Regions from separate parts of the Homo sapiens genome. Here all the other regions are reported to be linked to region 1. Evidence: microRNA targets listed by miRTarBase, many of them from high-throughput screens and not tested one by one. Region 1 holds a microRNA gene; each other region holds the end of a gene's coding sequence.
What was found. Region 1 holds the annotated microRNA hsa-miR-630 (AGUAUUCUGUACCAGGGAAGGU, at 1,481-1,502, opposite strand). A microRNA usually pairs through its seed, bases 2 to 8, with sites in the 3' UTR of a target mRNA and lowers its output. Matches are read on the target gene's strand: a 7mer-m8 pairs with bases 2 to 8, a 7mer-A1 pairs with bases 2 to 7 and ends in A, and an 8mer does both.

Region 1 (4,247 bases):
GTAAGACTTTTAGTTTTGTGATTTTCTCCAAGGTGGACCACTTACCAGAAAACCAACAAAAAACCAAATTGGGCACTGCACACCAGACCCTTGGGAGGCACCATTCCACAAAACCCACTCAACTAGGGCCTCCAGTGAGGCCCTATTCTGAGCCAGTCAATTTGCCTTGAATCATTTTGTCCCTTATGATCTGGAGTTGCTCGCCTATATTCTCTTTTTGCAACTATAGAAGGCAGTCTAGATCAAGGATCTCAACCTAGTCTGCATGTGAGAATCACCGGCTGGAATTAGGGGTGAGAATGCGTAAAGGGCTTTACAAAAATTACTGATGCCTACCCAAAGCAATTAAATCATAATCTCCATAAAGTAACACTCAGGCACTAATATTTTTTAAAGCTTCTCAGTGATTCCAATTCGCAGTCAAGTTTAAGTATCACTGGTCTAGGTAATGCCAGATGGACAGTGGCATTGTTGCAAGCCAAGACTAGTAGAAGCTGGGAAAAAAAAACTGCCCATGGCCGGGTTTTCTTTGGCCCACATTTAATTAAGAGAATTCACATGAAGTCTGGATTTCACAGGCTCCTCTCAGAGCCCATCTACTCCAGGGTACTCTATTTCTAAAATATTTACTTGGCTCTTGTTGACATTTCAGTTTGAGACTCCTGGATTACTTGAGACCCCTGAATTACTATGGTAATAAGGTTGTTGTGGTATTGATAGAGCTGCTACATATCAATGTGTGACTGATATACAAACTTTAACTGGCTCCTACCCTGAAAATAGTCCTAAATAAGCATATCTGTGGCCCTAAATGATAGCCTGAAAACTGCTTTTCGCACATAACTCATATTATTTTTTCCCATCCTAAATGCTACCGCCTAGAGAAAGGTCAACAATAGTTGCCTTAAAAATTGGACTCAACTCCACACAAAAGCAAAAACTAAAAACCTAAAAGTTGTCTGTTTACTCCCCTGGTAGGCACTATTTGATTGATATCCAACTGAGTATTTCTGAGTTGGCTATTTGATCTTGGGTAACTACAGAAGCAAAATCCCTAAAATAAACCAGATATAACCAACTTTATCCCCAAAGATATATGAAAAATCTGAGGGGCCCACTTATCTTCCTGTTTCTGAAGGAGCCAAAATTTTCTCATAAAACTCACTGCTTATCATCTTTTTAAAGCCTCAAAGGCTGAGATCCAATGGATATGGGATGTTCTGTGCATCCTGTAACAATTTCCTGCAGACTATCCAAAATTCTTTACAATGGAAATTCATTTGAATAACTAAACCAACAACTGCAAATTACTTGGGTACTATTAAGCAAATCATACTAAACCACTTATTCTCAACTACTGTGTTGCAAACTGCAACAAATGAAAGATCAGAGATAGTATAGAGCAACCTCTAACAGTAGCAGTGATAGGCATTTATAATAGTCTTTAATGTGGTTTAAAAGTACAATATAGTTAAGAACTACCTTCCCTGGTACAGAATACTAGGTCATTCTGTGACCAGAATAACAAAATATGATACAAAGAGGTAGCATGATGTTAAGTTTCAGGTAGAAGGAAATGAAAAATTGAGGGAGTTATTTAACCTCAGTGAGCCTTATCTTCCTCCTTTATAAAAAATGGCAATTTCTTCTCCACTTGTTTTAGACAGTAAGTTGAAGTGCTTTGAAGAGGAAAAGTGATAAACTCCCATAATTACAGATCCAAATAAGAGTAAATTAAATTGTCCTAAAACCTGGACTTGGCCAGAGTATCAATGACAAACGATCTTCAACTTTGGGACCTTCTTTAAGAAAACTCTCCCTTCATCCCTATATAACAGTATCAGCTTTAAGAGTGAGCTAAAATGAAAGTAATGTAAAGGAGTTTTGAGGTTAGCTAAGAATGACTTTTAAAGTATTTTCTTTAAAAAAAGTGGCATTCAAAGAGCTATTGAACATTTTTGTATCACTGTTACAACACAAACAATTTAAATTCAATATCTGAGATGCAGAAATTGGAAATCTTTCAGAAAATGCTCTGAAAGCTTCATTAACCAAGTTAAATGTTGGGGGAATGGGCTCATTCACAGTTCCCTGCAAAGAAACAACCAATTTTTGACATTTTATATTAAGTGGGAACAGTGAATAAGGCACATAATACGGGTGGCTATTAGCCACCTTTAGTCATTTTTTAACTATAAAAATAAACATAAGTAACTAATGGAATAACAAAATAAAAGTTTATTTTATTAGAATTAGGAATGTTCTTTCCCTCTGGGCAACCTGAACAGTCCAGTTACAATGAAATCTAAGAACAGTTATTTCCACAGCATAGGGTGCTCTATGCACAAAATTACAGGGTTAGGAGCATTTAATCAATTTACCATTCTGATTGTCTCACCAACCCACCCCATCCCATCCCCCAAGTGCTCTATTACCGGGGTTTGTAGCTAAAATAATTTGTTACATTAACTCCTTTTCCCTCTTCTACTAAATTTCAGTTCCTAATCATGGTTGAACCACTTTATTACACAGCAGATTCAACCATTTCAAATGAAGTCAGCCAGTCTTGGATCTGTTGTATATGGGTGTATGTATACACGTGTATCTAACATATTTATTTAAACACACATAAAACACATACAATCTGGGTTGTGGAAAATTACAGATAATTTAGTCTGATATTATATGCTACTCAATTTTACCACTGTGGTTTGTGTCCTGAGCTTTGGATCAAAATTTTATTTTAAATCACTGAAAGTCCATCTGCTGCTGAATGAATTGTTCAAATGAAGCATGCACTTTTCAAAAGACAATGAAACTGACCTCAAGACATGGAGACCTTGGTGCTTACTGTGAATAGATCCCTCAGATAAGACTTCTGTAGGTGAAACAGGGAAGCTGTCATGGCTTGCCTATCCCAGCTGGGGGCACTGAATCTACTAATAACACAAGCAATTCACTCTGGGAATTCTGTCAAATATGGTGGTATCTGTTAAAAGCTTGGAAGTAGAAAAGGGCCAGTTCATCTTGATCATACAAATTAGGGAATGCACCCACAACTGCAATACCCTCAGGCAGTATGCCAACATTGAAATAGAAAGCATCTCTAAAAAGCACTGTTCCTCCATGGGTGAAGACTGGTATTAGGAAGTGCACACACAATTTTTGGGTATTTGTTGCAACAGGAACACGTGGATTTATGACACTCAAACCTAGACACTGCAAAGTTAACTGGTAAGATTTTTTTTTTTTAAACACCACACATACACAAAGCATTTTAAAGGAGCCACATATATCTATATAGCAACTCTGACTGCTTTTCAAAGTTACCAGGGAAAGGAACTTATTCAGGCTTTCTTTAAAAAAACTCCTTAGTTTTAATGTATATCTTTTTAAGATTGATGCTGTCATTTGAAGTAAAATAATGTCATATGGATAATGGGGGAAGAGGGGAGAGAGACGAGAAAATGGAAGAAGCAGACACTGAGTTCAGATTTGCACCTGAGGTGGCAAGGGAGGAAAGGAGAAAAGGTACAGGTAAAGTTGATCCTAAAGCGACAAGTGGTTTAAGGAAGCAGCATTTATACTCAGCAAACATTCACTGATTTTTGATGGGAAAAGAACAGTTGCCAGTAAATCTCCTGTAACAACCTTTTCTAAAAGGAAAAGTAGGGTTGATTCAGCAAAGCCTAACTTAGGCAAAAGGCCAGAGGAAAGTGAACCTACTTCCCAATGGAGTAATAGGATGTACAGTGTAAGAGCAGACAAAGCTGCCTCACAAATGGTAAACACTCCCTAGGCAAAAGACATTTAAAGGAAGACGAAGAGGTCCTCAGCCTCAACTGGTATTTCATATTTAGACCTCTTAATCTAGTTGCCTAGTTCACTCTGCACTCCTGTATAAAACTGACAGATTTACAGATGCTGACCTATTGAAAAATACCACAGCCAGAATGGCCTAAACAGGTATATAGTTAATACAACCACCACCATCCTTTACTTTTAACATAGCTCTTAGTAGGAATTTCATAAAAATGGACATCACAGCTAAAATGCATTATTAATTCTCCTATCTGCTGACAATAAAAAAGCAGCAAACTCAGTGATTTCTATTTAAATGCACTAGATGGGAATATCATGTTCTAGGGGTGTTTGCCTTCAAACCAAACCCACAGCAACACACACAAGCAATTTCGGTATCCACCATTTTAAATTCACAATCTGAGACTAAATGAATGGCTATTTAT
Region 2 (4,247 bases), not on the chromosome of region 1:
GTCCAAATCCATCGCCACCACCTTAATAGACGACACAAGTAGTGAGGTGCTGGATGAGCTCTACAGAGTGACCAGGGAGTACACCCAAAACAAGAAGGAGGCAGAGAAGATCATCAAGAACCTCATCAAGACAGTCATCAAGCTGGCCATTCTTTATAGGAATAATCAGTTTAATCAAGATGAGCTAGCATTGATGGAGAAATTTAAGAAGAAAGTTCATCAGCTTGCTATGACCGTGGTCAGTTTCCATCAGGTGGATTATACCTTTGACCGGAATGTGTTATCCAGGCTGTTAAATGAATGCAGAGAGATGCTGCACCAAATCATTCAGCGCCACCTCACTGCCAAGTCACATGGACGGGTTAATAATGTGTTTGATCATTTTTCAGATTGTGAATTTTTGGCTGCCTTGTATAATCCTTTTGGGAATTTTAAACCCCACTTACAAAAACTATGTGATGGTATCAACAAAATGTTGGATGAAGAGAACATATGAGCACATGAGTTAAGATTGTGACTGATCATGATTTATTTGAAGATGGAGCACTGCTGATTTATGAAGGAAAAAAGAAGAATTTTCTAAAGATTACACATATTTCAGAAAGACTTTACCCAATTCAGTTGTCAGACATAATGATTTATTTGAAGGCTTGTTTTATTTGAAGAAAAGCATATTGCCAAAAATTCTGGTTAAAAGCTTCCTAACGGGTAACAGACCATGGGAGAGATATGTGGTTGGGTAATGCAAATGTAGTTATACAAAGAAAAATACAGATGTCTCCAGACCTGAGGACTTTTTAATAGGGCAGTTGTTGTGTTGGTGGCACATTGGATATTTCTAACATGTACAAAGCTATGTATTTTGATTTACTTTCATTTCTTGCTATGTATATGTACTTTTCTTAAAATGCCAAGAACTTTCTCTTGCTATCATTGCTCCTTTTGAAACAATTCAATTTTCATGTCTACAGCTGACTGTTTTGTTAAGATTGAGTCATCGACATTCAGGATTTAAGTCTGAGGTAGTCAACCCTCAGGAAAAAAAAAATGGCTTATCTGAAATCAGTACTGTGGAAATGAACTATATTAGCTATTATGAATAATGTCCAGTATAAGAATATGCTTCTGGAATTGAGTTCTCCTTTTAAGTACCAATGATACTTAAATTTCTCAGAAATGTAATGGTGTGTCATTGCCTTGAAATGCTTGCTTAGGGCTTCTTTTATGTTATCTTAAAAAGTGCTGGTGAATTTTCCATTTTTTACATCCATTTCACATGTAAGAGACAAAAAAGTCTAGATTGGTCTTGATATTGAGATAATAAAAAGTAAGTAGCATTAAGAAAGGTAACAATCTTCATTCTACAGATGAACTCATTGAAACAATTTAGGGGAATGAGGGGCAAAAGGGGAGAAATACTGCTAAAGAACATGAGCATAAAAATGCGTGCGTTTCAGTGTTTAAGAAGGCTTGATAAAGAATGTCACTTTTTTATTTAACTGATAAGATTTTTGTTATTTTTTACTTTGATAAGTAAACCAAAGAATATTTGTATTTCAAGCAGTTTGTGTGGTGTTTCTATATAATTTTCTGTGTATAAATAATAAAGTAGGCATTTGTTTATTTTGTAAAAAAGAAATGAAAATCTGCTGGCCAGCTATGTCCTCTAGGAAATGACAGACCCAACCACCAGCAATAAACATTTCCATTGTCACTGTGTCTATGATTTTTTTTTTTTTTTTTTTGAGTCTCGCTCTGTTGTTTAGGCTAGAATGCAGTGGCATGATTTTGGCTCACTGCAACCTCTGCCTCCCAGGTTCAAGTGATTCTCCTGCCTCTGCCTCCCAAGTAGCTGGGATTACAGGCATGCACCACCACACCCAGCTAATTTTTGTATTTTTAGTCGAGATGGGGTTTCACCATGTTGCCCAGGCTGGTCTTGAACTCCTGACTTCAAATGATCTGCCTGCCTCGGCCTCCGAAAGTGTTGGGATTACAGGTGTGAGCCACTGTGCCTATGATTTAGTGTACTCTCTTGCCTTAAATTTGCCTGCCTCCCAGAATATTGACATTAAAATAATAGTTTACCAGGAAAGGTTCCACAACTAAAAATTCCAGAAGTTGAGATCTGCTCTAACCCATTTCAGCCTAGAGAGGGTGGTCAGTTTCTCTGACACCCTCATTTGCTTGGCTAAGACAAGCAGCAAAGGTGTAGAGTTTCTTCCTGTTTGATATTAAATCCTGACACTAAGATTTGAACTGAAAGTATCATTCTCACTTCCTAGAGCCAGTAGGTGATCAGTATATGCTGTAACAATAACACAGTGACTACAGAAATGACCCTTCTAGCTTCATAACTTGCTAAGTGGCTTATAAATGGAATTCAGCAGCCTTCCTTGACCAGCTGTTTTCCTCACATGTGAAGGCTGAGAATGTGATGGGGGGTGTGAGCTACTGACTGGATGTGTTCTGTTCTCCAGATCTCAAACAGCAGAGGTATGGGAAACGAAAGCCCTGGGCAGTCCATGGATGCTTCTTGCTCATCTGTAGCTATAGACAGGACCAACCAGAGAGAGAAAACGTACGGAGGGAGAAATCTGGATCTCTCTGGACACACTGGATCATAGGGTTGTGCCAGCAGGCTAGCAATCAAATGTGCATGGGATTGGGGGAGCAATGCTTCATCTCCCACAGAGGGAAGGCAGTGAGGAGTAGACCGAAGGAGGGAATCCTGTTTGCTACCATTTCTCAGCATTTTCTGGAGGGGACCCATCTCCTTACCAGTGCTGTGCCTGAAAAGCATGTCTTGGATCAGGTCCAAAGTCGTGATTAGCAAGTTCATTTCTAATACAATAGGACTCCCCTTGAGCATTTAGGGTGGCAAGGAGCGTGGGAGCTGGGAAGAATCCCCACGTGCTTAGGGTAGATAAATCTGAGCCGAGTTAATACTAATTTGGGGATCCTATGAACCTTTTTATAAAATAGTATCTGTTCACGTTTTGAAAAAAATTGTGTTGTAATTGATTTTATTTTGTGCTGGTGGCTTCTCTGCAAAAATTATGAGTGGATATGATAAGTGGATGATAATACTAATGGACAACTAACGCAGAGTAGTTTGTATTATGTGTCGGGCACATTAACTCATTTAATTCTGCCACAATCTTCACCATCTTATAGATAAGGAAACTAGGGGAATAGAAGTTAAGGAATTTCCTGAGGTCACATGTGCTCGAGGTGTCCCAGCCGGAATATGTATAAAATCTTATTTTCACTTAAAGATGATATGGCTAAAGGCAGTGCTAGGAACATCTTTGGCTCAGAGAAGCGTGGGCAGTATGCTGCTGAAATGGTTCCTCATATAGTGACATTTTAGGCAGTACCTAAGTCAGCACAGGTCTGGCCTGTTCTCTAAAGATCTGTGTAGATGTTGTACAAAGACATTTTTCAAAGTTTTCAACATGACTCCTACTTTGGGGGCATCTTGTGGCTCAGTTTTCTGTCTCGTGGAACTTCACTTCTAGGTGCTCACAATGACTTTTAACGTTGACTTCTGAGGTGCAGTGAGCTGCTCCCCCACAGCTGTCCCTAGCAGTGGTGGGTTCAGAGCATGACAAGGCACTCAATGTGCATTCACCAAGAGAAGCAAGGAAGCAGCAGTTCAGTACTGTGCTCCCTAGAGTAGGCACGGCATCAGTTTCAAACTTCAACATTATTTTCCAGATTTGGAGGCTCAAAATATTTGAGCAAGTTAAGTTAAGAAATAGCCTTTTTCTGATTATTAGGCCTTTCATATACAACTCAAAATTAGTTTAAGAGTAAAGCATGGGGTGGGTGCGGTGGCTTATGCTTGTAAGCCCAGAACTTTGGGAGGCGGAGGTGGGAGGATCACTTGAGGTGAGGAGTTCGAGACCAGCCTGGCCAACGTGGTGAAACCCCACTGCTACTAAAAATACACAAGATTAGCCAGATGTGGTGGCAGGCACCTGTAATCCCAGCTACTTGGGAGGCTAAGGCAGGAGAATCGCTGGAACCTGGGAGGCAGAGGTTGCAGTGAGCTGAGATTGTACCACTGCACTGCAGCCTGGGCAACAAGAACGAAACCCCGTCTCAAAAAAAAAAAAAAAAAAAAAAAGCATGAGTTAAGAACTTTGATCGTACAGAAATATTGCGTTTTAAACTCTTATATAATAGTATGCCATTCACAATTATCTGGAAAGTTCTTTTTCTCCCACCATGTGAATACACAC
Region 3 (4,247 bases), not on the chromosome of region 1:
CTGAGTTACCAGAGCCTGGAGAGAGCTCGGTGGGGCCAAGTGGGAACAGCAAATGAGAAAAGTGGACTGGGGAACGCGATAGGGAGGGGTGGGGACTGTGGTGGGTTGCAGAGTTCATGCTCCCTTCGACATCATTAATATAAATAAAAAATTAAAACACTTCCTTAGCATGTGTATGTGTGTATGTGTATTGCAAAATTTCCAAAAAACAAAACAAAATAAAAAAAAAAAACACAGGAAGGATATGCCAGAAACTAATGAAACTGGCTCCCTCCAGCAGGTGAGTAGGAATGGAGTGTGGGGGATAGAAGGACTCTTCTGAGCACAGCTTGCATAGAGTGGACCTTTTGGAACTATGTTAATGTTCTACATATTGAAAACAATAAAGTAACAAAGAAGAATGTAGACAGAAATGACTGAGCCTACCTGTATTTCAGACGAATAAAATAACCACACTGAAGAGAAAGAACCAATCCAAGTAACATCTGAACGTGTATTCAAACTGTTACTTTGACCATGGACCCTCAATCTAACGACAAAAAAAAAAAATACTGAGTAAGATCAGATACATCTTGAGCTCTATTTAGAATGTTTGTTTTTCACAGGGTATGGGTATGGCAATTCTGAAACTCCTTTTTGTGCAGGATTGAGCAAATAAGTAGATATATTGATGTTGATAGAAACCCAGGTTCTTACTGTTTAAGAATCGAGGAAATAGGGAATTGGGGAAGAATGGAAGAACTCTGTGGTGTTTGACTGGAACTGGAGAAATAGATATAGAGAGATGTGTTTGCTATTTATTCACACATACATATTCTGTCTCCCCCCTTTTTTTTCCTTTTTTATTTTTTTAGAGACAGGGTCTCAGTCTGTCATCCAGGCTGGAATGTAGTGTTGCAATCATAACTCACTGCAGCCTTGAACTCTTGGGCTCAAGAGATCCTCCGGCTTTGACCTCCCAAAGTGCTGGGATTACAGGTGAGAGCTCCTGCGCCCAGCCACATAGACACATTCCTTAGCTCTCTTTGCTGGAAGGACTTAAAAGCAATGACACCTCAGTACCAAGGAGCACATCTATTGCCCAGATCTTGGATTCTAAACATTTCCTGCTCCAGGAAACCAGGGCTCCTTGGAGAAATGGCTGATTCCCGGTTCGTACGAGATGAACCTGGAACATCTTGTGATGCCAGAGAGAAAGGATGTGCTCAAAAAATGATCGGGACACGGAAGGGACCTTCTGCTGGCCAAATCTGGGACAATTTGAGGATCAAAATAATTGAGGACAGTAATGGATTATAACTCACTGAATAAAATAAAAATCCATGAGTCTACACTGATAATAAAGACAGAAACTAATACAGATAAAAGAAATGATGGAGTTAGATAACTACCATTTGCAACTATCTTAGCAAAAATTGATTCAGGTAGTTGATTTCAGTTAAGTTATCATCGATGGATAAAGCTAGTGGGTGAAAGGTGATGAGGAAAGGGACATTTACACCCAACAATATTTCCCCACAGATTATTGATTAATTACAAAGGGGAGAAATGGTAGCTTCACCGTGGAGAAACATGGCGGACATCACCTTAATGGATGATTAAAATTAATTAACATCACCAAGAATGGGCCATGCCCCTACAGATGGAATTCCCTAGGGCATATCATTTATGTCACATTCCTGCCCATGCAATACCTAAATCTAATCACGACAAAGCATCAGAGAAACCTAAACTGATAGACATTCTATAAAACAACTGGCCTGTATTCTTCAAGAGTGTCAAGAATGTCAAAGTTATAAAATAAAAAAAAGGCTGAGGAGTGTTTTCAGATTAAAGGAGACTAAAGAGACACAACAACTAAATGCAATGTGCAACCCTAGCCTGGATGTTGGCCTCCTCCAGCAATGGCACCCTTTGTCTGTGGATAGGATGACCTGCCTGGTGATCACTGGCATTCCTGCCTGAACAGCCTCCTTTCATGATTGCAGAGCTGTGCCCCTCTGACATATGCTCAGCTTGTTTGTAACATTTAGATTAAGACACAAAGGAGGCTGGGTGCAGTGGCTCACACCTGTAATCCCAGCACTTTGGGAGGCAGAGGAAGGAGGATCACCTGAGCCCTGGAGTTTGAGACCAAACTGGGCAACATGGCAAAACTCTGTCTCTACAAAAAACACAAAAATTAGCCAAGTGTGGTGTCATGTACCTGTAGTCCCAGCTACTCTGGAGGCTGAGGTGGGAGGATCACCTGAGCCTGGGAAGGCTGAGGCTGCAGTGAGCAGTGGTTGTACCACTCCCCTCTAGCCTGGGTGACAGGGTGAGACCCTGCCTCAAAAAAAAAAAAAAAAAAAAAGACACAAAGGGATGTTTGGTGCCAAGACATGAAGAATGCTTGATTCACCTGGCAATGTCTGGGATAAAGGACAGAATCACCAGGTGGGTCCCCAGATGACAAATAGTTCTGAGTAGACAGTGGGGGTCCCCCTTGAAGGCTCAATTAGAGGAAGCAGGTTGTTGCAGTGATGGACCAGGAGGGGCAAGGAGTATGTGCATGATCCACATCAACCCATGTGAGCGCTCGCTCCCTGGAGTGTGGCTGGAGGCCCAGGCCCAGCACAGTTGTGGCACAGACAGGCAGAGGCTGGGGCAAGAGAATACCATGTTTAGTAAAGCTGCTTGCACATGCCTGCAGTTTAGCCTACCTTGGTGACCACATGGCTCCAACATGCAGTCCAGGCCAGGATGGACGGCCTGGGTGGATGTGGGATCCAAGCCACTCTCAGCTGTGCCCCTTGAGTAAGCTGCTGCATCTGTGTCCCTGTAATACGCCCGTACCACACCCATCACTTTAGGAGGCAAGACTCTGGGGCCACAGACACATCAAGGCTAACAGGGATTGGAGGGAAGGGGGATCGATGTCTGGGACACAGGGGAGCCTGGCAAGAAGGGGTGATATGGATCCAGAAACCCCACTACTGGGTATACATCAAAGGGAAATGAAATCAGTATGTTCAAGAGACGTCTGCTTTCCCAGTTCACTGCAGCACTGTTCACAATAGCCAAGATATGGAAGCAGCTTGGTGTCCACTGATAGATGAACGGATAGAGGAAATGTGGTGCATATACATAACAGAGTACCATTCAGCCTTAAAAAAGGAGGAAATCTTGTCATTTATGAAAACATGGGTGAACCCGGTGCACATTATGCTGAGTGAAATAAGCCAGGCACAGAAAGACAAACACTGCATGATCTCACTTACATGTGGAACCTATAAAAGCTGCCCTTATACAAGTAAAGAGTCAAATGCTGGTTACCATGGGCTGGGAGGAGAGGGACTGGGCAGATGTGTCAAAGAATACAAAATTTCAGTTAGGAGGCATAAGTTCAGGGATCTTGTACAGCATGGTGACTATAGTTAACAACAACGTATTGTATTCTTGAAAAAAAGGAGTGATATAGGGGTACCAGAGATGGGCAGGATGATTGAAGATCACAGTCCAGCCTTGCAGGACCCCGGGGGACAGGGCGGGCACTCAGAGGTGGACCTCCAGCAGGTAGCGCAGGCGACACTGGCTCTCCTGGTAGATGAGGTACTCGCTCTGGGAGAATGTGGAGCTGCTGAACTCTGGGCAGGGCACAGGCTGGCCCTGGGGCACCACCACTTGCTGGCCATCCAGCTCCAACTCAGTGTCCTGGGTCGGATCTGCAGGGCACAGCAAGGGCCAGGGTGGCCCAGGGGTCACTGGTCCCAGGCCTTACGAGTAAGTCCTGCCCCCTATGCTCTCCATGTCTGTCACAGGGCACGCCTGCTCATTTCCACCTTGCCCACCTCCAAACCACTGCAGGGGCTGGGGCTTCTGCCTGGGGTGTCCTCCCCGACTTCTCTCTGGGAAACTTGTACTAATCCTTCAATGCTCAGTCAACAACTCCTCTTTTTGAAGCCCTCCGGGATGCCCAGGAATGATGTGTTGAACCAGTGGATGTTTGTCAAATGACAAACTGAGTGACGACAGGGAAGCTTCTTTTTGTCCCTCTTCACAGCCCCCTCCCTGAAAATGTCCCAGCCCCTATCTCGGCCCCACCTCTCTCCTTGGGCTGTACAGCTTCTGAGGACTCACCAGGCTCGGTGTGGCCTCGGGCAATGACACTGTCGAAGCCAGGAGGTGGGCTCTTCAAGCTGGGGTTGTCCGTGTTGATATGGTGCTCTCTGCCCAGGGCCACCTCACCCAGGAACATGTAGCCGACA

Region 2: miRTarBase lists TNFAIP8 as a target of hsa-miR-630. Seed matches in the 3' UTR shown: 7mer-A1 at 4,238-4,244.
Region 3: miRTarBase lists PARP3 as a target of hsa-miR-630. Seed matches in the 3' UTR shown: 8mer at 3,432-3,439.

Annotation. Positions count from the first base shown.
Region 1 is chr15:72,584,532-72,588,778 of GRCh38, reverse strand. It overlaps MIR630 (microRNA 630), which reads right to left and starts at 1,562; the gene lies at 1,466-1,562. It overlaps ARIH1 (ariadne RBR E3 ubiquitin protein ligase 1), which reads right to left. Exons shown (of 14, transcript NM_005744.5): 14 at 1-4,247.
Region 2 is chr5:119,392,886-119,397,132 of GRCh38, forward strand. It overlaps TNFAIP8 (TNF alpha induced protein 8), which reads left to right. Exons shown (of 2, transcript NM_014350.4): 2 at 1-4,247. The coding sequence ends at 496. Among named protein-coding and RNA genes, the nearest start is that of TNFAIP8, 39 kb to the left of the region's middle. RefSeq lists an enhancer at 2,152-2,201.
Region 3 is chr3:51,947,768-51,952,014 of GRCh38, reverse strand. It overlaps PARP3 (poly(ADP-ribose) polymerase family member 3), which reads right to left. Exons shown (of 11, transcript NM_001003931.4): 10 at 4,120-4,247; 11 at 3,148-3,704. The coding sequence ends at 3,535. Among named protein-coding and RNA genes, the nearest start is that of GPR62, 5.5 kb to the left of the region's middle.